Homo sapiens: one gene and its partner. The protein of the gene in region 1 purifies or fractionates together with the protein of each later gene. This does not show direct contact. Each region holds a gene or a part of one and is shown in the gene's direction. Other genes may lie near its edges.

Region 1 (14,981 bases):
CAGTTCTATTTTGAGGTTTTCGAGTAACTTCTGTACAGTTTTTCATAATGGCTGGACTAATGTAGACTCCACCAGTGTGCAGGAATTCCCTTGTCTCCACATCCTCACCAAGGTTTATCTTTCATCTTTTTGATGAAACAGGCATGAGGTGATACCTCATTGTGATTTTATTTTGTATTTTCCTAATGATTGAGCATTTGGTGATATTGAGCATTTTCTCATGAATCTTTTGACCATTTATATGTCTTCTTTTGAGAAATGTCTACTCAAATCCTTTGCCCATTTTAAAATTGGGTTGTTTGTTTTCTTGATATTGTGTTGCTTGAGTTTCTTATATATTTTAGGTATTAACCTCTTATCCGTTGTATGGTTTATAAATACTTTCTCCCACTCTGTGGGTTGTCTCTTTCTTGACCATTTCCTGTGCTATGCAGAAGCTTTTTAGTTTGATGCAACCCCATTTGTCTACATTGTGCTTTGGAGTCATATCTCCTACTTGCTTCTGTCTTTAATCAGGGGTCCATTAGGTTTGCAAATGAAATAACGTGACTAAGAAACAATGGAAAACTATAATGTCAAACTGTCGCAAGACTAGCAGTGTAGTGAAGATGCAGCTTAGTGACTAAGTCGTGAGCATGGGCCTTTGTCCCCGCAACCTTACAGCATGCTCCCTGGTAAAACTTGAGACCCTCCAGCAACTTCCTGGCAAAGGGAAATGTAGTTGGTCATTGTTTCTATTATGGATTTTTTTTTTAATTGAAATTGAAACAGATGCCGAAATCACCTGTACTCTCGTAAACCTTCCGGTAACACTTTGTGGATTCTGGGATTTGCGAATCATCATTTAAGAAGTATAGCCTCTCCTCTCCTGAGCTGACCTCCGTCGCCAGCCTGGTCCCCTCCCGCTGTTCTGGTTTGGAGATTTCAAACCCTTTAACTATGTGACCAAAAGAGGCAATGGGACAGGCAAGGACTGAATTGGGTCCTGAAGGATGGATAAATATTTGCCATACAGATAAGGAGGGATTGGGAGATACAATTTTTAATCTCTTAAGGTTTATGAGAAGATTCTGGAAAAAAATCTGTACTTAATAACCTGTCATATTCTGTGGGTAGAGAAAAATATACCCTGATTAAAATTCTTATTGTGCTTTTAAAGTTAGAGAAATATTAGTTCTAGGAGTCGGGGTGCCGGGGGGCAGAGGCAGTTATGTAGTGTAAAAGCTTCTGCTTCTGGTTTTCGTACCTGCCAACTCTTCCTCCTTCCAGTTTTTCTGTCCAGGGTTTAATAAAACTAAGTACATTAAACTCCGTTTTGAAAACTCATATTTAGTCCCTCTAGTTAGTAAACTTGATGTGCCTAAAGTCTTCTGTGCCAGACACTGTACTGAACATTTTAGACAGAAAAGTTTTAAAGGAGATGCAGATGGTCTTGGAGGAAACCTCTGTATAGTTGTGTTCAGAAACTGAATCCCCTTCTTTTTAAATGTGTTTTAAAATTTGTATATATATTGGGAAATTGAAAGTATTATTTGAAATAGGCTGTGTAGAATTCAGTAATTGGGGGAGGGGGCTGGGAAGTGGCTGGGTTCTTGTCTTATGGTGTAGAATTACTCAGCTCTGATTGGTTGTGAGTTTGCTTATGGCTGTTCTGATTTTTACCGTTGCAAGATAATGGCTTAGTAGTGATTTTCTCTTGTGTTGCAAATATCTCAGTTTAACTGCTGCTACAATACAAAGCCTTTAGTCCTAAGAATTTCAGGAAAAATATGAAATTTGAATACATGGTAATACACTCATTTTGTAAGGTATTCACTTTGTGTGTTGGTATTGATTTTGCTATTTGTGTCTAATCTACCGGGGAATTGCTAACCTCAGGACACAAATGTCAGATTCTGGACCTAGACTCTGAACCAAATGACATAAGAATTTGGTTCACAGAACATTTTAAGTTTCACTGTAGTTGTTTTTATAAAATACAGAGGCTCAATGACAACTCACTAGATTTTTGTCATCTAGAAAAACTATAATATTATATATGAAGGCTTTCAATTAGTTTAAAGGAAAAATTACAGAAAGTAAATATAACTTTGCATTCAATAATAAAACAATTTAAATATGTGTTTTAGTTTTAAGACATGGTAAAAATTTCTAAAGTAATACTCAAGCTTAATTTTTAGAAAGAATTCATTAACCCAGTTGCATTTATTTTTTATTGAAGTAGTACCATTAATATTTTTTTCTAAATGTTATCTTTTTGTGAAGTAAGCATTCATTAATTGTTTTAACCTGTGCAATTCCCTAAGAAAACTGTTTTCACAAAGACAGTACTTTGAAAAATGTTTAAACTTTTATTTCTGGGCTTTATTTCCATTCTTTTAATTCTTGATATAAAGAGCAATTCCTTTCAAATTATTGAGCACACATGGACATATTATCTACCTATTCTTGCACTAAAAAAAAGCCAGAGAGCTTCTGCATATCCACTGTTGCTATCAGTTGTGTATGTCAAAAATATTTCCTGTCAGGTTGTTAATTGAGATAGTGCTGGATGGAGCCAGCATTTTAAATAAAAGTGAGAGTAGGCAAAAAACTAAACCTTCTGTTTACTAGCCCAGAAAGACTAACACGTAACACTCAGACTAATATAGATGAAATCCAGGAGCTATGGCTCACTCCTGTAATCTCAGCATTTTGGGAAGCCGAGACGGGAGGACCACTTGAGGCCAGGAGTTCAAGGTCAGCCAGGGCAATATAGCAAGACTCCTGTCTCTGCAAAAAGTTTTAAAAAATTAGTCAGAGGTGGTGGTGCCAGCCTGTAGTCCCAGTTACCCCGGAGGCTCTGAGGGTGGATTACTTGAGCTCCGGAGTTCGAGGCTGCAGTGAGCCATGATCGCACCACTGCACTCCAGCCTGGGTGACAGAGTGAGACCTTGTCTCTAAGAAAAGGAAATAGATTTATTAGTGTCTTCTGTTTGCCAGGCTTTGAGCCAGGTACAGGACTAGAGTGATGAATGAAACACTGTGTCTGCCCTCCCAAGTATTTTACGATCCAGTTGTGTATGATGGCAAGTAAATGGGTAAATAATGATCCAGTATGATAAATGCTGCTAAAGAGGGAAGTCATCTTAGGAAATCAGGAAGAGTTTCCCAGTGGAAGAGACAAGCAAGCTGACATTTCCTCTTGTTAGCTTTTCCTTCTTAAACATTCCATCAGAATCCATGAAATAAACCGATGGAAAAAAACTGATAAAGATTTTTCCTATTTTGAAAAAACCGTTAATTTGCTTCATAGTCCAGGAAAAAACCATGCTGGTTTGATTCAGAAGTTAACAGATCAGATGTGTTTGACCTGGTTTTTTTGTTGGTGGATTATTTCAACTAAAGTTCTCATTATACTTTAAAATATTTGTTAAAACTTGTATCCCTTCCCAAATTATACACATTTAAAAATGTTTAAAATTTCAAAAATTAAACGTAGGACTTTCTGTCTTATATTTTTACCATCCAATTTATACATAAGTATATATAGACAATGTACTGTTGCTGCTTAATGCAAAATAGTTGTCCTTAAAGCAATTTAGCATTTGTTTACAAATATATATGTATAATTTTGCTCCTGATTTGAAACTGCAATTTTATATATTTAGAGGGAAAAAAGCCAAATCATGCTAGAGTGCACTAGATTTCATGTAAGAGCTGTTTGGAGCAGTGGAAGAGTCTCAGAGGACTCAGTGTGTTTTCATACTTCGTGTTCTTTCATGTAAACCTGATTTGAGAAATTCGTCATCACTTTTTCCTTTACAGAAACTTTATAACAAGTCAGCATCCATTTGTAGTCTCTGGTTCATCTCAAATGTTTAGCCTCTTCTCCTTTTTTTGTTTTTTGATGGCCTTTGTCATGTTTCATCCTAAATTTATATCTCTAGGCGCAACTCCTCTTGTGAACTCCAATTGTTCATTCTTAGTCTTGGCTTGGATTTCAAATTTAACTTAACCAAAACAGAACTGTTGGACTTGCTCTCAACTCCCTGTAACCAAATTTGTTCCTGTTAAATTCTTCCTCATCTTAATAAATGGTAGCTATGATCTTCCACTTGCTTCGGCCAAAAACTCGAGCATTATCCTGACTCCTTTCATTCCCCACAAGCCGTCCCGCAGTAAGTAAGGCCTGTTGGCTGTGCTACCCAGTTCTCCTGCTACCGACATCCGAGTCACCATTGTCTATCACCTGGGCTATAGCAGTGACTTCCTAACCATTTTCTCCACTTCCATTCACCTTTTTATAGCCCATTCTCTACACAACAGCCAGAATGATCCTTTTAAAGCAGAAGTCAGACTCCTTCATGCCTTGGCTCAAAATCCAGTGGCTTTCTATCTTCTTCAGAGCAAAACCCAAATATGGCAGTAGGGCCGTAAGTGATCCCACTCCGTCTTTGAGCTCGTGTTTTGCCCCCTACTTTCTTGCTCCGCTTTGGTCACACTAGCCTCTTTGCTGTTCCTCTGTTACCACGGGCATTCCTAGCGTAGGGCCTTCGCACTTGCTCTTTCTCCTGATATGAGCCTTTATCGCCTATAAATACACACGTTCATTTCAGCAGTCCCTTCAGGTCATTGCTTAAATGTCAACTCATCCTAAAGAGCTTTCTTGACAACTTTTTTTCTCTGTAAGGACCTTGTTTCTCTCCTTGGCATTTATCTACATGTGACAGTTTTCTATCATTGGGTTTTTTAAAAAATCTGTGTATTCAACTAGAACTTGAGCTCCACGGAGGCAGGAACTTTTGTTTTGTTTTTCTTCACTGCTCTTTTCCTCGCACCTGTCTGAAGCAGTGATTTTAGCCAGAATCTAGATTTCCTGATTCTGGTCCAGTGCTCTTTCCATGGTTCTGTGTGACCTCATACATCAACCTTATTTCACAAACGAGGTTTTTAAGTTCCTTGAGCACAGTCGATTGTGTTTTTTACTGCTTCTGCTCCGTCCCTGCATAAGACAGGACTGTGTCATGTACCCAGTGATGGACTCCTGGTAAATACCATGGCTTGACTAAATGACCTCCAGTGCTCCCTGTGGTCTTCACCAACACGCATCAGACGACAGGCTCAGTCACGGGATACTTCGCTTTCTGTAGGAGTAAGAGACAAGTTGCTATCACTGAACAGATACACAGTGGCATTTGGAAACTGCATGCAGTTTGAAAAAATCGTGATACAGCAGGAGTCTAGTTTTCAATAAATAGCTTATTCATATTCTGGATTTTGAACAGTTCATGTAACTGTAACTTTGGGGTAGTGGATAATGAGACTGAAATTAATGGTTCCTCTGCTGGTTTCCGTCTGTTTTTTTTTTTTTTCTCCCAGGAGGTTGGTATTTCTGCACTTAACCACCTGATGTTTTTAGGGGGAGTATATCCCAGATAAATTCTGTTGTAAGTCAAAGAGCATCCATGATTGGCTTGGCTCTTTCTTAAGCAACTACTAAGATGCTCCTACATTTGGGTTTGAACGTTTTTTATTCTCTTGGCTATGAAGTTTCTTAAGTGACTCTAGTAATACTGATGGTTCCCCTTGTGTTTACAGGTGATCTGCAACTCTTTCACCATCTGTAATGCGGAGATGCAGGAAGTTGGTGTTGGCCTATATCCCAGGTATGGTGTATGGTACTTCATGTACTGGAAGACACACTTTCATTCCCACCCAAATCCCCAGCCCTTTGGAGGTAGTTAGAAAGGCAGTTGCTGCAGCTTGTTCAAGAGCCAAGCTTAAAACTTAGCAATAAATTACAAAAAAATGGAAAATGTTAAGTTGAAAGAAAACAGTTTTATAACCCCACATTATATGCTGTGATATTAACAAAGGGGCAGATCTCAGAACTAAACTCTTGTTCTCAGGGGGACTTTGGGTGAAGAAGTTGAGGACGGTGGGTGCTAATTAACCATCGGGCTGATTTTTGGTTATTCCCCAGTTTCCTGAGCTGCAGCACATGCTGATTTCACCGGACTTGCCGTACGTATCAGTTGGGTTCATGTTGTCTTTCGAGTTGGCACACTCTGAGCCCTTTCACTCAAGGAGGCAAGAAAACTCTCAGGCTTTGGCCCCTGAATGCTCTCTCCAGCTATTGCTGAGCTGACTCTTACCACTGAGCTATGAAACCGTCTCTCCACAAGCACTATAGGCACACCCAGTTTCATTTTGTTTTTATGCCATAAGAGTCCAAATACAAATTTAGACTTTCTAATAATTGTGAATCTAAGAATTCAGCCTTTTTTCTTATTTCTCACAATTGTCATTAACTGTAGGTCAGGTCTACTGGTAGGTGGTTCTCAAAAGGCAGTAACATAGGATGATTCAAAGCATGGGCTCTGCGTTCAGGCCACCTGGTCCAAATTCCATCACCACTTACTAGCTGTATGTCCTTGAGCAAGTCATTTAATTTCTGTGCATCAGTCTCTTTACCTGTAAATGATCCTCATAAGATTGTTGTGAGGATTAAATGTGATGAACATGCTCAAGTGCAAGAAAGTGTTTCTACATAGTAAGTGCTCATTCTAATTATTACCAATTCCTGATAGCAGCTTAAATCCATTTTGTTTCCCAGATGGTAAGAAATGTCCCTCCAAGGTAATAAAATGACTGGACCATGGCCCAGGATGCATCAGGATGTAGGTGGCAAAATAACGTCAGCTCTCTATTTAAGAGCAAATAGTCCTAATTATTTTTCAGTGTGGATGTTCTAGCAAAGGCGGCCATTTCTCCAAAGGAGCTCAACAAATGAGATCCTATGGGAGAGGTCAGTGGTATCTTGGCTGCTGCATCCCATTATGTCTGAGTATTTTTTTTTTTTGAGATGGAGTCTCACTCTGTCACCCAGGCTGGAGTGCAGTGGTGCGATCTCGGCTCACTGCAACCTCCGCCTCCTGGGTTCAAGCGATTCTCCTGCCTCCACCTCCTGAGTAGCTAGGACTACAGGCATGTGCCACCACACCCAGCTAATTTTTTTGTATTTTTAGTAGGGACAGGGTTTCACCATGCTGATCAGGCTGGTCTCAAACTGCTGGCCTCAAATGATCCACCCACCTCGGCTTCCTAAAGTCCTAGGATTACAGGCGTGAGCCACCACACCCAGCTGTCTAAGTATTTCTTTCTGAGTCAGTTTCTTTCTGACCTTCGTGTTGGGTTGCCTTATTGACTGTTATCTAATCAGTCAACTATGCCCCAATCCCCAAAAAGGACTCAGGAAATTTTTTTATTATTAAATGACGGAATTCCCTAGTTAGCCTGCATCTTGAGGAGAATTGCACTTCGTGGGAGGTGTGCTAGTGACATTTCTGTGAATGCATCCCCGAGTACTGAACCCCTGGCATCCTGTCAACCCTACCTGCTGCTGCCCCCCAAAGGAAGGTGTATTTTACCCACTGCATTTGTTAAATTTAGTTGACTCTACCTGCTGAGCTGTGACAGTCTTCCCCCCTTTTTTTTTCCAGTATCTCTTTGCTCAATCACAGCTGTGACCCCAACTGTTCGATTGTGTTCAATGGGCCCCACCTCTTACTGCGAGCAGTCCGAGACATCGAGGTGGGAGAGGAGGTAAGGAAACTCATGCTTCCCAGCCTGGCCTTCTTTCCTATCAAAGACCCTCTCAGCTCGGCCCGTCCCTAAAACTGATTGTGCCTGAGGGGACAACTTTTCATTGTCCTTCTGCCAGTGAGAGTATTTGTAGTTCAGTCACCTCTCCCCAGCAACCTATCCTTTCTTCTCCCAAATTACAAATGGGCTAATTTTTTAGGGGAGAGGTCACCATATTTCTGGATGATGACAGTTCCTGTCCTGTGTGTGAGAGAGAGAGGAGTTTGTGTATGACAGAGGGTGTGTGTTTTATGCACACACAGGGAATTCATGAAATCTCCTCAGTGGCAACAGCTGAGCAGCCTCTCATATCCTTCCGTGGGCAGGGGGGGGCATCCCAGCTTGTGAGTGGGATCCCCAAGACTTCTTCACTCGGAAGGCCACTGGCTACATTGAAGGTAATGATGCATGTTAACTTTGTGCTAGTAAAGCAAACAGCTTATACTGTCTCAGGCTGACATTGGGACTTGACAAACCCATCAGCATCTCTGGGTGATCATTTCAGCAAAGATGCAAAGGGAATAGAGGACAGGGAGGATGACCTCCAGCAGTGAACTGGCCTTGACCCCTCCAGTTTGACAGACTGTCCAGCCAGCCTCTTTTGGTGCAGAACCTTCTTACAAGACAGCTGCAAACGGGCTGCTCCAGGGCTCTGAACCTAAGCTTGCACTGGTTTGCACAGTGACTACCCATGCTGAGTTCTGAGTTACAGATATTTCTACTTTCCAGAACCCCGTTTCCTTCTCCTTTCCAATTTGCTAAAGTGGATATTTATTGCAAGGAAAACAGTACTGAAAGCTTTTATTGCATTTATGCAGCACTCAGCCAATAAAACCTCAACTCAGAGGTACCATATTTTATGTAGACAGGGATTTGGCTTTGACAAGATTCTCCCCAAACTGATTTTCAGTGGAAGGAGCCACTTCTTATACAACTACTCGCTAAATTTCCAGATTTTAGGACCAGTGTATGAAATATACTGGGATAGATGTCAGTGAGATGGACAATGTAGTTTTTTCTCTTTTTTTTCTGGGGCCGCAAAGGACTTCAAGGCAGGTAAGAGATGAAACCGCTATCTATTTTCAGCAATATTCATTTGGGGGCTGAAGAGCGGCTGCTGCTGTTGTCGATGATGACGATGTTTTTGCAAATTAAAAAACAAACCAAGTAACTTGACAAAAGCAATTAGAGTTGGTTGGAATTTTCAGAAACAACAAAGAAAGTTTCTTCTATTTTCCTAGGCTCGGCTGCCAGTCATTCTCCCGTGGTTGCTTTTCATTTAGTTGAATAAGACACCTTGTCTTTAGGTGCTGCTTTCACTTTTTCACATCTTTCTCTTTCCATCTCTGGAGCAACAAGCAAATCCTCCCTCTTGCCAAATACGAGACATTTCCACTCAGTGTAAAGCCCTTCAGACTCAGATATTTTTCCCTGTGGTACTTAGCAAGGCATCTTCTCAACAAAAAGAAGGTTCTCCCCACAAGTCCTTCATATATACCAGTTTAAGAGAATAAACATTTCTCCATTCCATTTTGTAGGTCTTGCTGAACAGTGTTTCCCCTGATTCATCATCGTTTCTGTCCACTGTGTCTCTTTGTCTTAATGTTATATGCCCTTCGAGGCTGTTTGTTATGATTTAAACATGTCCCCCAGATTCCATCTGTTGAAAACTTTATCCCCAAATTCTTGCTGATGCTTTGTGGAGGTGGAGTCTTTGGGAAGTAATCCAGATTAGATAAGGTTATCAGGGTGGGAACCCCATGATGAGATTGGTGGCTTTATAAGAAGAGGACACTCCTGCTGCCACCTCATGTGACGCCCTCTGCCATGTTATCAGGCAGCAAGAAGGCCCTCCCCAGATGCCGGTGCCATGCTTTTGGCATCATGCTTCCCAGACTCCAGAACTGTGAGAAATTTATTTATAAATTACCCAGTCTGTGGTATTCTGTTAAAACAGCAGAAAATGGACTAAGATACCCTTTCAATCACATCTCTTGTGTAACTCTTTCCCTGATTTCCCATATTAGAAGAAGTTCTTTTCCTTTGAGTTCTCGCTTATAGTGGTTATTAATACATTTTTGGCACATATTATGGCTGTTTTGGAGACCTCTCTATTTAGAGCTTTATGAGGACAGACAATCGTGTCTTATTTCTGTATCTCTTAGCACTTAGCTTTGCATCCAGGAGGCATTTGATAACTTTTTGTTGAATCGACTCTCTATTATATTGAGCTTACTCTAATGACCGGCAGTATTTCTTGTGGGGACACTATTGCCATTTTGAATGGGACAGTTCTTCATCGTGTGGGATTGTTGCATCATTGGAGAAGACTTGTGTCCTTGGCGTGTGCTTAACTAATGCCTGTAGCCATCCCCCAACAACTAAAATATATCCTATGCCTTTCAAACTGACCCCTTGGAGCAGAGGTAGGGGAGAGGGAGAGCCATGAGAAAAGACAGTTTGAGGCATTGATTAAGCAGGGTAATTCCTATTTATTGTACAAATATTAGCTTTAAATTAAGGAATAAATCTAGACATTTTGTGTTCCCAACATACAAAAATGGTAAATACATGAGGTCGTGGATAACCTAAATACCATCACTTGATCATTACACATCGTATGCAGGTAGCAAAATAGTACCTGGACCCCATAAATATGTATAAATATTATGTATTAATTTTTTGAAAGTTAAAATTCCTTGGGAAAAAATTTTAGACATTTTGGTAATTTCCTATCATGAACTTTGCATTTGGCTTTAGTGCTCATTAGGGCACCCACAGTTTTAATATGAGCTATTTGGGATCTGAGTGTCAGAATATGGGATTCACAATGGAAGACTCAACAGCAACTGAGGCAGAAGTTCCTCAATCAACATTTGTTGAGTAAATTAATGAGACTTCTTAAAGATAAAATAAGAGCTGGAATAGGGCTGGGCACCGTGGCTCATGCCTGTAATCTCAGCACTTTGGGAGGCTAAGGGAGGTGGATCACTTGAGGTCAGGAGTTTGCATCCAGCCTGGCCGACATGGTGAAACCCCGTCTCTACTAAAAATACAAAAAATTAGCCAGGTGTGGTGGCGCACACCTGTAATCCCAGCTACTGAGGAGGCTGAGGCAGGAGAATCGCTTAAACCCAGGAGGCGCAGGTTGCGGTGAGCCAAGATCGCACCATTGCACTCCAGCCTGGGCGACAGAGTGAAACTCCATCTCAGAAAAAAAAAAAAAAAAAAAAAAAGCTGGAATAGAGTCTCAGACATTTACAAATGACTGGCAGTCCTCAGTGGTGTCCCATGGCTCCTGAAAGGAAGGGAATATGAAAGCCAGTCTACTGCCAGTTTAAGATGGGAGCATTTCAAACCTCACACAAGGAGAGCTGGAAAATTGCACAAGGTCTGTGATAACAGAAGTTGCCATGGAAATTTCTCACCCCATGTTTCTCTCTATATAAATCCATCCTTTGGACCCTCTTTGGACAGTTTCCTTGCAAACCAGCAACATTTATAATACTTTGCTATTTAAGGCTCTCCATTGTAATGCTGAGTTATTGGGTCTTTTTTTTTTATTTGACTTTGGATTTTTGTCTCCTCATTCAGCCGCCTCCTACAGAGAGAGATGTGTAATATCATTTAAGTCATGGCTCACTTGACTGGATTGCTGATGGCTACCTTTTCAAAATTATCTTAAATATGAGATTCATTTGTTCTGATAGTTTTATAAAACATGGATCAGGGAGGAAAGCTGGGTAGGCCAAAGCAGTCTTATGGTAGTTCCTGGTTAAAATAACTTGTAGCTGTTACAAATAATGCCATTGGCTGCCAGCATTCTCTGGCGCCATATCAACTGGGAGAAATGTGATTGACACAAGTTGAATGCATTAGTATCCCTAATGTCAGTCTTAATCTGATGTCTTTTGGGATTAAGACAGTCTGTTTCTTCTGTTAGTCATCTTATTTGCTAAACCATTAAACGAATTCACTGCATGTTTACTGGATGTCAGGAGTTGGTAGCAGTTTTAGAAACCTTCTCTAATACAAAGATTATTAAGACCCAGCCCTGACTTCAAGAGTTCAAGGTATAGTTGAGGAAACTGACAGAGAACAGAAAACAATAATAGAATTAAGATGCACAGTGGTGTAAATGGGCACAGGCTTACAGCAGCTCAGAGCAGGAGCACTCGAGTGATTAGTAAGGGGAGGGAGTGGAGAGTGGTTAAGGAATGCTTCCAGAGGACTGACTCCTAGACTCTGAAAGGATCCATGGAGTTAGAGTTGGATGAGGCTGGAAAAGGCATTGTAGACATAGACACAGAGGCCAGGGACAGAATGGTGAGTTCAAGGAGTAGGAAGCAGTTCTCATCAATAGACGACGAAAGAATTTAGATGTGACCCGAATTTGAGGGAAGATGTAGGGATCAGACTGACAAACCCCATGGGAGCCTTATCACAGACCTTGGTTTAGCTGAAGGTTTCATAACATTGGCTGGTCTATAGGAGGCGCCCAGTAAATATTTGTGTAAGGGAGAAGGACGAGCAGCGGGACATGATTGAAGGGTTTCAGCAAAGGAACTGCGTGGCCAGATTTTCTTGTTTTTTTTTTCCTGCATGTTTACAAATGTTACTGTTTTTTATTGTATGTACTATACATAAAACACTTGAAGAAAACAATTTTTAAAACCCCACCCAATTCTAACCCCTGAGTTAGATTTGGGATATCACAAACGAAACATTTTACTCAGTGTACATTCAATTTTACCTCAGTCACTGTTGCTGTAGTGTGAGTTTTTCTCAACTCGTTGAACCATATGATTGAAACGTGATGTTTCCTTTGCCTTTCATTCACTTTTTGTATATACGACCATGGCTATGATGATAGGGAATATTTATAGGGTGATTCAATTTAGGAAGCAATAGATGAAGCCTAATAGGTAAAAACAAAAAACAAAACCCAAGGACTACAAAATTGAGTAAGACCTAAGTAGTCTGTACCATCTTTGGAATCTTAGAAAACTCAGATAATGTTACATATTCATTTTTTTTATTTTATGGAAGAAAATGTAAGGTTTAAACTGGGAAATGATTTGTTCAGTGCTACACTTACTACTACGCAGTGTGGAGGGGGTTAGTAATAAAGCTTCATTCTCAGGATTGAAGTAACAAATTATTTACCTAGGACAGTGCCCAGCACATGATGCTTACTACATAGTGATTTTCTTCTTCCATTTGTGATTAGAGTTTCCTGAAGGGAAAAGTAGAGCTCAAATGGTGAGTGTCCAAAAAAAAAATATGACATTAGAGATTTCTCATAAATTGTGGAAACATATTTAGAGAATCTATCAAAACTATAGTAAATCTCATCTTACGTATCAAAGCAGAATAATTGGTCTTTGGTGGAGGTGGTCTGGCTGATGTTTGGACTCGGCAAGAAAGATTGCTACAACTGTTGAATAACATTTGGTTTGTGTATAGAAGTGTTGGTCCATGATGACATCTACACAGATTATTTTCCATTCTTAAATTAACATTTTCTATAGGCAGTCTTTGTTCTAATACATGCTCCTCTGAAATTGAAGCTGAAAGTGTTATGACCAGTTTCACTTTAAATGAAGGTACCTTTAAGTCTGAAATGAGCCGGTGCTTTCAGGTTTAGGCTGTTGAATACAAATACATACAAGTTTGATTTTTGTTTTTGGCTTAAGATGATAAAATTACTTTTAACGGGGTTTTATTAAATTATATTCAATAAATAACTAAATTGTGATTTCACAGTTAAATTCATTATAAAAGTCCCTGCCCCATTCTTAAGAATGGATAAGTGTAAAAGAAATGTAATTTCATTTACCTTTTGAATTAAGCTAAAAGAATATTTAGTAACCTAATTGTGATTTTTAAAAAAATAATTTCAACTTTTATTTTAGATTCAGGGGGCACATGTGCAGCTGTGTTGCATGGGTATATTGCATGATAGTGAGCTTTGGGGTGTGATGAATCCCATCACCCTGGTAGTGAACATGGTACCCAACAGTTTTTCACCCCTTGCCCTACCTCCCTCTCTAGTAGTGCCAGTGTCTGTCATTGCCATCTTTATGTCCATGAGTACCCAGTGTTTAGTTCCCACTTATAAGTGAGAACATTGGGTGTTTGGTTCGATAGATTCTCTAAATATTTGTTTCCACAATTTATGAGAAATCTGTAATTGCTGGGTTTGGTTTTCTGTTTCTGCATTGATTTGCTTAGGAGAATGGCCACTAGCTGCATTCATGTTGCCACAAAGGACATGATGTCATTCTTTTTTATGGCTGCATACTATTCCATGGTATGTGTATATATATATATATATATATACACCACATTTTTTAGCTCACTGTTGATGGGCACTTAGGTTGATTCTATTTCTTTGCTATTGTGAATAGTACTGTGATGAACACGTGAGTGCATGTGTGTTTTTGGTAGAATGACTTATTTTCTTTGGGTATATACCCAGTAATGGGATTGTTGGCTCAAATGGTAGTTCTGAGCTCCTCTCCAAACTGCTTTCAACAGTGGGTTAACCAATTTACATTCCCACCAATAGTGTATAAGTGTTCCCTTTTCTCCACAGCTTCACCAACATTTGTTATTTTTGGACTTTTTAGTAATAGCCATTCTGACTGGTGTAAGATGGTTTCTCGTTGTGGTTTTGATTTGCATTTCTCTGATTAGTGATGTGGAGCATTTAAAACCATGTTTGTTGGCTGCTGGTATGTCTTCTTTTCAAATGTGTCTGCTCATGTCTTTGGCCCACTTTTTACTTGGGTTATTTGCTTATTGAATTGCTTAAGTTCCTTATAGATTCTGGGTATTAGACCTTTGTCAGATGCATAGTTTGTGAATATTTTCTCCTATTCTGTAGGTCGTTTGTTTACTTTGTTGATAGTTTCTCTTGCTGTGCAGAAACTCTTTAGTTTAGGTCCCACTTGTCAATTTTTGTTTTTGTTGCAATTGCTGTTGAAGACTTAGTCATATGTTCTTTCCGAAAGCTGACGTCCAGAATGGTGTTTCTTAGGTTTTCTTCTAGGGTGCATAAAGTCTGTGGTCTTACATTTAAATTTTTAATCTTTGTATTAATTTTTATATATGGTACAAGGTAGGTGTCTTCTGCATATGGCTAGCCAGCCGTCCTAGCACCGTTTATTGAACAGGATGTCCTTTGCTCATTGCTTATTTTTGTATGACCACTTTTCTATGTGTAGGCAAGGTTGGGAGAATGAGCGTCGGGGTGATGTAATAATCCAGGGAAGAGATAACAGTGGTAGCCTGAAGTCGGGGAGCTCAGGTGGTGGCTTGTGATAGGGTACCTGAAGACTATAATATTAAGA
Region 2 (15,038 bases), on another chromosome or scaffold:
GCTTCAGCCTCCTCGTCTCCACTCCAGAGAGGAGGTGGCTATGTCTTCTTAAGCCTCTGGCCCTCAGAGGCTCCTCCCTATCTCCTGGCTAGTTACCACTAGGCTACCAGGTCTCTAGGGGCCTGAGAGAGGCCCTCTAGAGAATCCAGGGAAACTGTGAGCCCAGGAGTTGCCCATCTATGGTTTCATTCCTCCCCTGGCTCTTCTCCCTCTTCAGGCCATAATTTCCCTGGTGCCAATTTCTTTTCCTCCTGGGGCATCCTCATCCCAGGGCTCTCTGCTGTAGATTGGCTGTGCCAGCTTCCAACAGGTTACTGGCAATGCCAGTGAGTTTCTGTAGGCCCTAAGCTGAAGAAGTGAGGCAGTGATTCTGCCTCCATCCTGGTTTCCCCAAAGCCCCAGGGCACCATCCTTAGGGGAGAAGGTCTACAGTTATCATTATTTTAATTCCATTACTTTCAGTCTGGAAAACTAAGCTAGTCAGAACTGTCATCTTGCTTCCCAATCTAAGAACCTGTGGCCCTGGAACACTTTTCAAGAATTGGTTCATTTTGCTTTACACAGTAGATCTGTTCCAACAGTTCTGTGTAAACCAAATGCTATTTTTCAATGCATTTGGACTGCTGACCATTTAAAAGCAGCCTATGATTGCTTCTTTTTGTAAAGCAAGCAACCTCCCTCCACTTTAGCTGTTTTGACTATTTGAATTTTCACATATTGGGCTTACCCAGAGTGGAGCACACCTCCAGGGCATGTGGCTGACACTGGGTCAATGTCTGCATCTGTGCTGTGTGTGTAGTGTGGTTGGCCAGTAGGTGAGTATCCCTGTGTGTGTGAGTGAAGCCACTCCCCAGGCTGGTGCTCTCCTCCTGTGCCCAGTGACTGCCCAGTGGCAGCTCAGCTGCCCTTCACTCCCACCTGCTGCCAAAGTCCCTGTGCTAATGGGATTACAAATACAAAAAGTGGAAAAAAATTTTCGTAAACTTTGTTTTATATTAAAAGAAAAATCCATAAGTCTGTGTGTGTTAAACATGAGGTTCTGCCTCTGTGGCTGTGTTTGAAAAAATAAAGTTTTATTAGAATAATCCATTTTCCCAAGCAACCTTGTGTACTACAGTGTCTTCTTCCCTTCCCCACAAAGACAAGGAAGAAGCAGGGTAGAAGGCCACCTAACTGTTCCAGCCCCTTCATCTAAGATGTGGGTCAACCTTTCAAAAAGGGGCAGTATTTGGACCCTAGGCCCTTTGCCGGCCATGGCAGGATGTTATACTGTGGCCCAGGCTTCTGCTAAGGCCTTGGTTATTTTTGGCAGTCTGGTTTGGTCTCTCTTTCCCTGGCAGTTATACTTGTCTCCTCCTGCCTGCTGTCACTCTCACTTCCAGCAAGTTGAAGTCAAGTATGAATGCATTCCAGCTCCCTGAGAAATGGTTTATGGTACAGTCAGGAACTTGTCTAGATTGGTTTGTAGGCTTTGGGAAGTAGGGAGAAGGCAGGGTGGGAGACAGCCAGGGATCTTTCTTAAGTTTTCACATGTTACATCCTGGAGAGATAGAGGTTTAGTCATCAGAATTCAGATTCCATAGACCTAGGCAATTTTTCCATCCTAAAAATACTGCTTTTGGAAAATAATCCTAGCTGCAAAGCTTCTCTTTTGTTGTAGAAGACAGTATTTTCCCTAATGTTTCCTTTGGGAGTGTTGGTTTGCCAAAAGAAGCTATGTGGCTCACTCTTTAGACCTTTCTGTTCCACCCTTTCTTCTCTCTATGTTGACATTCTTCCAATGTGTGTGGGTGAAGTGTAGTTGCTTAGAGATCCAGGCAGGAGCCTCTGTCTCTAAGGCTTAGCCTTTCTTTACCAGTTGTGGTGCTAATTTGCCAGGCAGCAAGAAGAGTCAAGTTGCTTAGCTTATGTCCTGGTTTCCTGCTTCAAATTGGTGGCACTCATCATTGAATACCAATGAAGTGTGTGCAGGACAGGACTGACTTGACTACCTGGAGCAGGAATCTTTGCAGGGGTGCACATACACCCTAGAAAAAGTGAGGGTTGTCACCTGCCCTGGAAACAAAGGAAGGGCTTTGGGGAAGTGGTGGGCAGTGGCATGTGGTTAAAGAAGCTTAGAATTACAGGGTTTTTTTTCTTTAAAACTGATGTTTCATTTCACCTACTGCTTGAGCAGGGGTAAAGTTTGAACATCTAAAATGACTTTGTTTCCCCCTTTTTTTCTTTTGAGTTTATTTTTGTTGGATTTTTCTGCTATTTTCTGTGAGGCCAAGTGTGATTTTATTTTTCATTCCTGAAGTCTTGTTAATATAGGAAAGAACGTAAACTCCATGAGGGCAAGAGTTTTGTTTTATTCAATATTGTGTCCCCAACACTTTGGGAAGTTCCTGGCACATGAAAAGTGCTGGTCACATTTGTTGAATGCATTTCCCTTTTGCCTTTCCCATCCGTGAACTTAGGTACATTTCTGTCTCTCTGCTGTGAGAAACTAGCCTTGGACATTGGGGCAGTAGTTAAATCTCTGTATGGGAGAAAATCCCAGCAGATAATTTTGATAGAAAAATTGCAAGGCAGATAGATCTTGTATGGATTCACCCTTGTTCCCCTCCTACCAACTACAGCTTATGGGCCATGTGCTTTAAGAGGTGGCTCTCAGCCCAGAAAAACATTCTGAGTCAGGCCTCAGGTTGGCTGTGGGAGATGGAAGTTAAAAAGAAGTGGAGGGAGGAATGTTTCCTTGGTGCTCCACAGGGTTGGTTCTAGAATGATTTTCCTATATGTTTTATACTTTAGTAAAAGTATAAAGTCAATAGTTGGTTACCCCTCTCCCCAAGCCTTTGTTACAAGAAAAGTAGGTCAAGGGTGTAGACAAGGTTATGGACAGGAGATAGCTGGGGTAGGCACAGAAGCCTTGGAGAAAGAACCAGCTACCACTATTTCCTGTCTGTAGGGAAAATCAAAAAGTCACTTTTAGAACAACAGTCATGGGTTATTACTATACCCTTTATCTTTTGTATCCATTTTGTGTATACTCAGTCTCTGCATCCATGAGACCATGGAATGTGCTAGTCCCTGATATTGCCAGCTTTAAATGATTGAGGCAATTTCCTGTTGCTTATTGTGGGTAACAATCTAGCCAAAAATCTCAGCATCTCACTTTCTCTGCAGGCTCCTTTTCTAATCAGGAGCTATCAGTCTCCCACACCTGTATTAAATGCATTCAGATAAGAGTTACAGAATTTTCTTTGCCCCCAGCCCCACTAATTCCATGGTAAGATGGAGTGCTACTAAGAGAACCCCTTTACTGTTGGTCTATTTCCAGTTCCCCTAAGAGTTGAATGGAGAAACACGTAGACTTAATAACATTGGCAGACTAGGAAGGGGAAGAAGTTAGGTCGGTTTTAGGAAAAACACCAAGATGTTGGGGGGCACGTTGGCCTTCAGTCAGTGGAAAGAGTGGCATTATACATCCAATGGAAGTAATACATTGGCCAATTGGAAAGGAACCTAAGAAGTGCTGGCAGTATAGAATGGGATGGTGCTGTTATGGGCCATTGAGAAGGAAGACATTGTGTCTCATGGACCAATGGGGAGAACATTTCCTACAAGACAGCAGGTAGGAGCTCATATTTTCAGGATAGGAAATCAATGGGGGTATTGGAGACACTAAATAGCTCAAAACATCCACTCTCTAGGTACCTTGCCCCTCACCCCCTTACCCCGTAAATGTCTTTGGTATCCGAGGAGAGCAAGCTAAAGCCCTCTCATATATACGACTCCCTGAAGGAAGATTGAGACCAGGGATGATGCCATGGGGAAGCTGAAGGACCCGCCCACTTCCCTACCCCGGCCGGACCTGCAATTCCCCTCCAGACCGCAGGGGGCACTGCAGGCCCCGGGGAGATTGGGGCGGAGCGCTGCGAGGGGCCAGGAGCTGTCGCCCCGCTCCAGAGCGCGGGGGGCGCTGTGCGGGGCCCAGGCTGCGGCTCCGCTCCCGGCCACGGGGGGCGCTGCGCTGCGCCGGTGGTTGGTGGTGGCTGTTGGGGGGGGTGGGGGGGAACGGCGGCCGCGGGTGGTGCGGAGGGAGGCCTTGCGGGCGGATCGGGCGCTTGGCGGCGGAGGTGGTGGGAGGCGGCGGGCGGGAGCGCGGGTCAGGCCGGCCCCGGCGATGGCGGACGCGGCGGCCTCCCCGGTGGGCAAGCGGCTGCTGCTGCTGTTCGCGGACACTGCGGCCTCAGCCTCGGCCTCGGCTCCCGCGGCGGCAGCGGCGAGCGGAGATCCGGGGCCTGCGCTGCGCACTCGAGCCTGGCGGGCCGGCACGGTGCGGGCCATGAGCGGGGCGGTGCCCCAGGACCTAGCGGTGAGTGGCGGCCGAGTCGGGCACTCGAGGCCGGGGCTGCGGGGCCTGCGGGCGGCCTCCCCGGGGGCCTTTGTGAGGGGGCGGTGGGATGGGGGTGACCCATTTCCGTGCCCCCGGGTCTCCTTAGCGCCCCCCGCCGGCACCTCCGCACCCCGAGCGCTTGCCGGCATGGCTTCCGCGTCGGGGTGTGCGCCCCGGTTTCCCCCGGGGGGCGGCCAGGGCGTCCGGAGCTGCTGCTTGCAGCCAGCAGGCCCCGCCTCCTGGGCGACCCTTTTCTCGGCGTTCCCCCCAACACGCCTTCGGAGCAGGCTCTCGAATCTTGAGCTCCCGGGAGCCTCAGAGTTCGGCCAGTGTTGCCGCTGCCCTCTCGAAGACGCGGACCTGTGGTCCCCAGCCTCTCCCAGGAGACCTGCGCCCTGTTCCTTTTCTCCCAGAGCCCCAAGTGGGGCGGGAATGTGGGCAGTTATGGGAGGCACGGAGGCTGCAGTTGGAGCTGGTCGGGGCTTTTTTATCTGGCAGTTACTTCCTCATCTGAGCTGGGCTCGGCCTGGCGGTCTCCAGAAAGGCCAGCTCTCGGCACTGTCTCGAGCTCTCCTCTCCTTTCCTTAACGCTTCTGGGTGACAGGAGCTGCAGTTGTGGCTGTTTTTGTTAAGTTTGAGATCTTTCTTAGTGGCCGAACGGGGCTGCTGGGTAGTGCTTTTTGCTCCCAGCTCAGCTACTCCCCCAACCTTGGGAGAGGTTTTGTTTTGAAACTTTGTGTTTGGGCTTGGCCCTTTTTGAATGCCTTGGTGTGTTTTGTGATTAAAGTTGTTCAGTCATACAACTTAACTAGCATTCGGGATCATGATGTGTTATTCTCGTTAATGTGGCGGTAAAATATAGTGTTTGAGTTTTGGCAAGCCACTTTATTTCCTCATTTTGATAGGGGCCCTAGCTTCTCTGGTGAGATAAGGCTATGAAAAATGGTGTGTGTGCGTGTTGGGGCAGGGGGTGGTCTTTTGGAATGTAATAGATCAGCAAGCAGAAAGTAAATTTTCTTGATGAACTTGCTTTTGCAGATATAAACGGGAACGCAGTTTGTGAGATTTGGAAGTAATGTTGTAGGCTTCCGATGTTCATTTTTCTTCCTATTGATCAACGGTGTTAGACTGTCCTTTTTCACTAATATACAAGCTTTATGGATTTTTTTTGTGGATGGCTTAGGCTTTGCTTCTGCTACTTGGGTTCATTTGCTTTGATTTTTCTTCATGCTGTATAAGAAACGTTACTAGGACATTTATAAGGCCTCAGTGGGGCAAATTTGCAAAAAGATACTAAAAATTTAAGGGGATGGAATGATGATTAAGACTGGGATTTGGATCTCTATTCCTCTGCGCTTTCTTTAAAAGATGGCTGGGATGGGAAAAGAAGTGTCCATTTCAGATTCATTCTACCACCTTGGAGGCAAAACATACTTAAGATCCACTATTATATGCATACTTTGACCGAAGGCCTACTTTGCCCTAGCTATTCATTGGGATTTTTTTCTGGTTCTTGCAGTGGTCGTCTCGTTTCCTCCATCAGATGAATTGCTAATGAGCTCTGCACCTGAAATGGCTCCCCATTCACTTTGTCGTTTGCTGTGCTCCCTAAGGGCAGAGGATTTTGGAGCTCACTTCCTTGCTGGACACCCACTAAGCTAAATACTGAATAATTTTACCACTGATCCCACGGAACTGGGTTCTCAAACCAAGTAAAAAGTTGCAGTGATTCTTGGAAATTAAAGCAAAGAACATTACAGCTGTGTTGAGGTCTTGCATAGGGCTGTGTGAATGTAGAAGCAAAGGCAGGTTTGTATTTTGAGAATACATTTATGCTTGTCTTACATGTATATCCAGGGACATAGATGAGAAAACAGCCAGACCAAAACTCAGAGCCTTTAGATTTTTTCACCAGCTTGCAAAATTGTTCAAGAATTGGTATTTTGTTGAGGTTCTATTAATGACAATGACCAGTGTAGGATGAGAATGGGCCGTTTTCTTTTTTTCTCATTAAGAGAGATTTCCTTTGGACCGTAGGCATGTGGACCTTTCCAATTTGCACCACACACGGTAGTAAACACAACTGTCTTCCAATCAAAAGTGTTCTTCCCGTACTCAAGGGTGGAGTTTGCAAGCAGCTGGCCTGTGATTGGGCAGATTTTCATTCAGTTATGTTTAAGATGTTTTCAGGCATGCTTGGTTTTGAGTAATGCCTAGCAGGGCGCCCCCTTTTAAGGATGAGTAATTGAGGGTTGGATGAATGAGTTTCTGAAGTGATTGAAAACACACTTCTTAATTTTAGATTCCACGAATACATCTCTTTCTAAATACTTTTTGATTCAGATATCCTATAAAATACAGTACTGATCCATTAAATGAAACCTTTTTTGGAAAACAGTAACAAAGCCAAGTGCTACCTTAAGGTGAGATGTGAAAAAAAGGAGTCAGGATCCTGTTGATTGAGAGTTTTGTTGATAAGGTTCTCATAGGTGGACATCTTCACCAGCAGAAGCCATGCTGACAAATTACTCAGATGTTTAGCCAAGGCATGAAAACAGCTTTTCCCCCACTTTCTAGTGGAATAGTAATTTTATTTGTGTTTTAAAATGGGCCTTTTATTTTTTTAGAATTAGTTTATGGGTTGTATGCATTTATCTCTGGCTTTTCTTTCCTAATCTGGTGTCCTCTTTGTGTTCCTAAATCATTATTGGCTCATGTAAGTTGCAGAGACCTTGGGACCGTCACGTATATGGGTATTGTAGATAAAACAGACCAAAAAAAGAAACCCATGGATTTTCCTTTTTTTGGTTATAAAAGCAAAGCTTGTAATTTGCAAAATGTCAAACAAAGGTTTACACAAGAAAAACCAGCAATCTCTTTGCTCATCTTTCTTAATGCTAGTACAAAAAACATGAAAACATTCAACCGTATACAAAGAGTTCCCTCTTTTTTTAGCAAATGGTGTCCTACTGCACAATATTTGCACCCTGCCTTTTTTTTCTTTCATTTGACAGTATACCATGGGGATCAATACTTACAGATTTTACTCATCGTTTTTGGTAACTACCTTATATTCCATAGAATGGATGTACCATAATTTATTCAGTTATTCCTCCTGTTAATGGACATTCAGGTTATCTAAAGTTTTTTTGGCAGTATAGACAATGCTGTCATTAATATACTTGTATACATATTTTTATGTAATCCAGGTTTTATTTCTGTAGTTTAGCAATCCAGGGTTGAAATGGTTCGGTTAAGAAGTATATGTATTTTTTATTTTATTACATAATGCCAGGTTATTTTCCAGTAGGTGTATAGCATTTCCTACTCCCACCAACAGTACTCAGGGTGCTTGTTTCTCTTTACCCTTGCCTTCACTGGTATCATCAGTCTTTCTCATTTTTGCCAATCTGATGGGTGAAAAACAATATCCATAATTTTCATGACTATTTGTCCTTTTTTTCCATGTGTACTGGCTTTTTCATTTCTTTTATTTGTTACTTATGGATATCTTTTGCTCATTTGAGAAAAATAGGAGTTGTCTTACCACTCTCTGCAAGTTCTGTGCATGGATATTAACTCCTTCACCTGCGTAGTGGGTTGTATTTTGTTTCACTTGTCTCTTGACTTTTTTTTTTTTTTTTTTTTTTTTGAGACACAGTCTCGCTGTGTCACCCAGGCTGGAGTGCAGTGGCTCCATCTCAGCTCACTGCAACCTCTGCCTCCCGGGTTCAAGCGATTCTCCTGCCTCAGCCTCCCGAGTAGTTGGGACTACAGGCGTGTGCCACCACGCCCAGGTAATTTTTTGTATTTTTAGTAGAGATGGGGTTTCACCATATTGGCCAGGATGGTCTCGATCTCCTGACCTCGTGATCTGTGCCCACCGCGACCTCCCAAAGTGCTGGGATTACAGGCGTGAGCCACCGGGCCTGGCCTCTTGACTTTTTTTATGGGTTGCTTTGCTATACAGAAAAATAAGAATTTTATGTTATCAGAATTATCGGGCCTCTTTTTGTTTGTTTTGTTTTTGAGACAGAGTCTTGCTCTGTCTCCCGGGCTGGAGTGCAGGGGCATAATTACAGCTCACTGCTGGGCTCAAGCAATCCTCCCAGGGACTACAGGCATGCGCCACCGGGCCTGGCTAGTTTTTGTATTTGTTGTAGAGATGGGGTTTCGCCATGTTGCCCAGGCTGGTCTGGAACTCCTGGGCTCAAGCAGTTGCCTGCCTCAGCCTCCCAAAGTGCTGAGATTCCAAACATGAGCCACTGTGCCTGGCCTGACTTTTCTTAATAGTTTAGGATTACTTGACTGGGAAGGAATCCCCATCTTGAACCTATATAAATATACTTTAAAAAACATTTTTTTTTTTTTTGAGACAGGGTCTCACTCTGTCACCCAAGCTGGAGTGCAATGACACAGTCACAACACACTGCAGCTTCGACCTCCCTGGGCTCAGGTGATCCTTCCGCCTCAGCCTCCCAAGTAGCTGGAACCACAGATGCACACTACCACGTCTGGCAAATGTTTGTATTTTGTATAGAGATAGGTTTTGCCATGTTGCCCAGGCAGGTCTTGAACTCCAGTCAAGCAATCTGCCTGACTTGGCCTCCCAAAGTGTTGGGATTACAGGCGTGAGCCACCATGCCCAGCCAACATTTTTGTTTATTTTTACCTTTAGATTTTTGGTACATCTGGAATTTATTTTTTTATTTTTATTTATTTATTTTTTTTGAGACGGAGTCTCACTCTTGCCCAGGCTGGAGTGCAGTGGCGCGATATTGGCTCACTGCAACCTCTGCTTCCTAGGTTCAACCAATTCTTCTGCCTCAGCCTCCCAAGTAGCTGGGACTACAGGCATGCATGAGATTAGGTTTCGCCATGTTGGCCAGGCTGGTCTGGAACTCCTGACCTCAGGTGATCCACCCACCTCGGCCTCCCAAAGTGCTGGGATTACAGGTGTGAGCCACCGTGCCTGGCATGGAATTATTTATTTATTTATTTATTTAGAGACAGAGTTTCACTCTTGTCGCCCAGGCTGGAGTGTAATGGTGTGATCTCGGCTCACTGCAACCTCTGCCTCCTGGGTTCAAGCGATTCTCCTGCCTCAGCCTCGCAAGTAGTTGGGATTACAGGCGTCCACCACCATGTAATTTTAGTAGAGATGGGGTTTCACCATGTTGGCCAGGCTGATCTCGAACTCCTGACCTTAGGTGATCTGCCTGCCTCGGCCTTCCAAGTGCTGGGATTACAGGCCTGAACCACCGCGCTCGGCGGGAATTTTTTTTCTTTCTTTCTTTCTTTTTTTTTTTTTTTTGAGACGGAGTCTTGTTCTGTTGCCCAGGCTGGAGTGCAGTGGCGCGATCTCAGCTCACTGCAACCTCTCTCTCCCAGATTCAAGTGATTCTCCTGCCTCCAGTCCCAGTAGCTGAGATTACAGGCGTGCACCACCACACCCAGCTAATTTTTTTTTATTTATTAGTAGAGACGGGGTTTCGCCATGTTGGCCAGGCTGGTCTTGAACCCCTGACTTCAGGTGATCCACCCGCCTTGGCCTCCCAAACTGCTGGGATTACAGTCATGAGCCACCGCACCCAGCCTTTTTTTTTTTGAGTGGTTTTATCTGTCATCCAGGCTGGAGTACAGTGGTGCAGTCATAGCTCACTGCAGCCTCAAATTCCTGGGCTCAGTTGGTCCTCCTGCCTCAGCTTCCTGATTAGCTGGGACTACAGGTGCACAACATGATTCTCAGCTTTTTATTTATTTATTTATTTATTTTTATTTTTATTTTTTTATTATTATTATACTTTAAGTTTTAGGGTATATGTGCACAATGTGCAGGTTAGTTACACGTGTATACATGTGCCATGCTGGTGTGCTGCACCCATTAACTCGTCATTTAGCATTAGGTATATCTCCTAAAGCTATCCCTCCCCCCTCCCCCTACCCCACAACAGTCTTCAGAGTGTGATGTTCCCCTTCCTGTGTCCATGTGTTCTCATTGTTCAATTCCCACCTATGAGTGAGAATATGCGGTGTTTGTTTTTTTGTTCTTGCGATAGTTTACTGAGAATGATGATTTCCAATTTCATCCATGTCCCTACAAAGGACATGAACTCATCATTTTTTATGGCTGCATAGTATTCCATGGTGTATTTATTTATTTTTTTTTTTTAGACACAGTCTTACTGTGTCAGCCAGGCTGGAGTGCAGTGGTGCGGTCTTGGCTCACTGCAACCTCCACCTCCAGAGTTCAAGTGATTCTCCTGGCTTAGTCTCCTGCGTAGTTGTGATTACAGGCGTGTGCCACCATGCCCGGCTAATGTTTGTATTTTTAGTAGAGACAGGGTTTCGCCATGTTGTCCAGGCTGGTCTTGAACTCCTGACCTCAGCTGATCTGCCTATCTCAGCCTCCCAAAGTGCTGGGATTACAGGTGTGAGCCACCGTGCCCCCCCCACCTTTTTTTTTTTTTTTTTTTTTTTAAGAGATTGGGTCTCACAGTTTTGCCCAGGCTGGTTTCAAACCCCTGGCCTTAAGTGATCCACTCAGCTCGGCCTCCCAAAGTGCTTGGATTACAGGCATGAGCCACTGCACTTGGCCTGGAATATTTTTGTAATTGGCAAGTGAGATGAGGGACCTAATTTGTTTTCTGCTGAGTGACCAGTTGTGGCAACACTAATTTTTTTAGGTAAACCATTCTTTTCTTTCTGTAGGTGTAATTAAATGATGCTGTACATGTAGTATCACTTGGTTTTGAATGTGTATCATAGTTATCTCATGTATCCAGAAGTTACCAGAGAAGTGAAAGCATATCCGCCCTATTTTTTTTTATCCCTTAATCTTTCATCTCTCTTTCAAGGAAAGACGGATTCTAAAATACTCCTTTCCTTTGATTAGAGATAATGTAATAATTGTAGCAATGTCTAGGCTAGTACTATGTTTCTTCTATCTGAGAGTCTTCCAGGAGGAGTGAAAGTGTATCTGCCTTCTGTTTTTACACCTCCCCACCGAACCTTTCCTCTGTCTCAGGGTGGGGTAGGTAGACTCTAAAATACCTCTCTATTTTGTTTCTAAATAATGTAATAATTATAGTCAGGTTCAGGATAGTACTATATTTACCGTATTTCCAGTGTACAATTCGCTACCTATGGTCAAACATAGAATTTCAGCCCTAGTTGAAATGGGAGTTTGTGGTTTTAAAAATGTTTGTGTCCTTTCATTACTTACAATTCCAAAAGTTGAAACTCTGAGTGATACCTTGATACTTATGCTCTATTTATTAATGTAAATAGAATATGTTTTTGTGATTCTGTGTATGGTTAGAGAACTTTAAATAAAAATGACATTGTACTTTTTGACATTAAGACTATATACTGTTTAATTGTGAGCCCGTCTAAGCACACTCATCATCTTAACTCTCCCCTTACAGCATCAGGTCTGTTTTTGAAACACTGAGCCATGGTTGAGTTTTTCAGACACTCAAGCACTTTGTATAGTTGATTTTTTAAAAAAAGATTGTGTGTGTGTGTGTGTGTGTGTGTGTGTGAATTTTAATAGTTCTATTTCTTTTTTTTTTTTTTTTTTTGAGACGGAGTCTCACTTTCACCCAGGCTGGAGTGCAGTGGCACATTGTCGGCTTGCTGCAACCTCCACCTCCCGGGTTCAAGTGATTCTCCTGCCTCAGCCTCTTGAGTAGCTGGGATTACAGGCAAGTAACTCGGATTACAGGTGCCTGCCACCACACCTGGCTAATTTTTGTAGTTTTAATAGAGACAGGGTTTTACCATGTTGGCCAGGCTGGTCTCGAACTCCTGACCGCAAGTGATCTGTCTGCCTTGGCCTCCCAAAGTGCTGGGATTACAGGCGTGAGCCACCACGCCCGGCCATTAATTTCCATTTGTTTCTAAGGGACTTGCTTCACTAACTCCCCACCTGCCAAGGGTTCATTCCCTTTTTTTTAAATACACAGCTTCCTGGGTCTCTTCTCCAACTTGTAGTTTATTTATTTAGTTCCCCTTCCACCAGCAGACTCAAAATGGTGGGTAAGAAACATGGCATTTTCCATTGTGATTTTCTTTGCAACAGCTGGGGTGGGTTCTATATAGGCTTTGCTTCCACAAGGCCTGGGGGATGCAACACCTGTTGATGCTTCTCAGTTTTCCACTGCCTTTGACAGGTTGGTGGTTTTTAAGCCCTTTCCACTGTACCATCCCTACTGCCCCTGGTGCGAAAGCATCATCTTTTGCTCTTGATCTCTAGGTGGGTAAAACCTGCCTGATTAGTAGTGATTCAGATAGTGTGACCTCCTTCAGTTTTCTAAGGGCTGAAACTCCTTTTTTTTTTTTTCCTTTTTTCATGACTTCAGAGGTAATCAGGCTCTAGGGGACTGATTCTCTCTAACCAAACTCTGGAGACTGAATTGTAAATCCACATGCAAGGTTATTAATTTACAGTGGGAGGTATACCTATCCAGAGATCTGCATAGAGCCCCTTCCTGCTCTGCTCTAGAGACCAAATTACTATAAGAAGGGTCCTTGATGTGCAAAGAATTGGACAAGGGAAATTGGGTGTTGCCAAAAGGCTGTTTAAAGCAAGCAGCCTTGATTTTGGTGATCCTTCACTTTTCTAGTATTTTCTGGCTTCCGTTGCTTTGTTCCTTCTTTAAACTTTTCTTTTAATGCTGTCATCCATTGAAATCCTATACAGAGAAAAGAAAGCCTGCTCATCCTTCAGGCCCATGCATCCTAGGAGCTACAAACCCTATAAAGCCTTTCTGATTCCCCAGCATGTTGTTTTTATTCTTTGTTCCTTTAGCACTTTGTGGATACCACTTTTTGGAATATTTATTGTAGTTTTTCTTGTTATAGATATGTGTAGCAAGATGTATAGCTTGTGAAGAAGTTCAGGAAACGCCACCCCAAAATATGCTGCATTGGATCTCAAACTGAAGGCACTTGGGGAGCAGCAGATGGAGGGCTGTCTCTGAACTTACTTCATCTACCTAAAGACACATCCTCCAAAAGGAACTCTAGGCCGGGCGCTGTGGCTCACGCCTGTAATCCCAGCACTTTGGGAGGCTGAGGTGGGCGGATCACTTGAGGCCAGGAGTTCGAGACCAGTCTGGCCGACATGACAAAACCCTGTCTCTACTAAAAAATACAAAAATTAGCCGGGCATGGTGGCGCACGTAATCCCTGCTACTCGGGAGGCTGAGGCACAAGAATGGCTTGAACCTGGGAGGCAGAGGTTGCAGTGAGCCAAGATTGCACCACTGTACTCCAGCCTGAAAAAAAAAACAAAAGAAGGAACTCTATTGTCATGAATCCCTTCCCTGCTAACCTTATGAACCAGGGAAGATTAATTCCTATCACAGGAGATGAGACTGGAGGTCTATATCACATGCAGAAAGACAGCCTTAGCTGTCACCTGTTCTTCTGAGGGCCCATTGATTTTTTTTTCCCAAAAATCATTAAGTCGGGTGCAGTGGTGTGCACCTATAGGGAGGATCACTTGAGCCCAGGATATATATATACATATATGTGTATACACACACACACACACACACACACACACACACACAAAATATCTTAAGTGAATAGTGTACGTGGTTTACTCTCCCCTAAGTTGCCTATAAGAAATATAGAAATATAATTATTTCTATGGTTTTGTTATATAATTATTTCTATAATTTTATTATATAATTTTTCTATAATTTTATAGTATAATTATATAATTATTTCTTTTTTATATACTTTAAATTTTAGGGTACATGTGCACAACGTGCAGGTTTGTTACATATGTATACATGTGCCATGTTGGTGTGCTGCACCCATTAACTCATTTACATTAGGTATATCTCCTAATGCTATCCCTCCCCTCTCCCCCCAATAATTATTTCTATAATTTTATATGATAATTATATAATTATATAAAACATATTTCTATAATTTCTATAGAAATATAAGAAAACTTCTCAGTCTCACTGGGTTCTGGGTATTTACTTTTCCTTGTTGTGATGCCCCTTACATGTAACAAATTTGTATTATTTTTCTTTCCTTAAACTGCTGACTGTTTATTTCAATCACCTAACCCTCAGAAGGTAGAGGGAAAGTCTTCCATCCTCCACACTTGCTTATCTATTCTACTAGATAGTAAATTCATGGAGGTCAGGAAACACGGATTTTTCTGTTTTTTCTCTTCTATTCCCTGACCACTCTGTCTAAAAAAAGTAGAACATTTTGAAGCCCCTATTAGGCTGATGTTCACTTCCGATTTATTACGGAATTTCTACTCCGTGGCCCCGTTGTCTTTATAATCTTTAAATTTTTTCTTTTACATGTTTTTATTGATACGGACTCACTGTTAATTTTTTCATCTTGATATTGGAGTCACATTTGGGACTCCAATCCAAGGTACACTGGCCCTTAGTTTTGTGATTTGCATCTGGGTTGTTTTCTTAGATTTGAAGCATTTGGTGTTTTCTTTCTCTGATTCTAAAGTAATACATGCCTATTATACAAAGTGTAGAAATTATTCTAATAATTTTTTTTTCTTTTTTGAGACGGAGTCTCGCTCTGTCTCTCAGTCTGGAGTGCAGTGGTGTGATCTCGGCTCACTGCATCCTCCGCATCCCAGGTTCAAGTGATTCTCCTGCCTCAG

What was found.
Region 2: the proteins of SMYD3 (region 1) and KDM3B purify together in Homo sapiens (affinity purification with mass spectrometry; 2 studies listed by BioGRID and IntAct, with this or other methods). This does not show direct contact.

The regions. Positions count from the first base shown.
Region 1 is NC_000001.11:245,920,537-245,935,517, reverse strand, and holds part of SMYD3 (histone-lysine N-methyltransferase SMYD3), read left to right. Parts: intron 1-5,580; coding exon 5,581-5,648; intron 5,649-5,965; exon of another isoform or gene 5,966-5,983; coding exon of another isoform or gene 5,984-6,006; intron 6,007-7,484; coding exon 7,485-7,587; intron 7,588-14,981. UniProt on the Homo sapiens protein: Histone methyltransferase. Specifically methylates 'Lys-4' of histone H3, inducing di- and tri-methylation, but not monomethylation. Also methylates 'Lys-5' of histone H4.
Region 2 is NC_000005.10:138,348,628-138,363,665, forward strand, and holds the start of KDM3B (lysine-specific demethylase 3B), read left to right. Parts: upstream 1-4,057; 5' UTR 4,058-4,168; coding exon 4,169-4,360; intron 4,361-4,519; exon of another isoform or gene 4,520-6,756; coding exon of another isoform or gene 6,757-6,804; intron 6,805-15,038. UniProt on the Homo sapiens protein: Histone demethylase that specifically demethylates 'Lys-9' of histone H3, thereby playing a central role in histone code. Demethylation of Lys residue generates formaldehyde and succinate. May have tumor suppressor activity.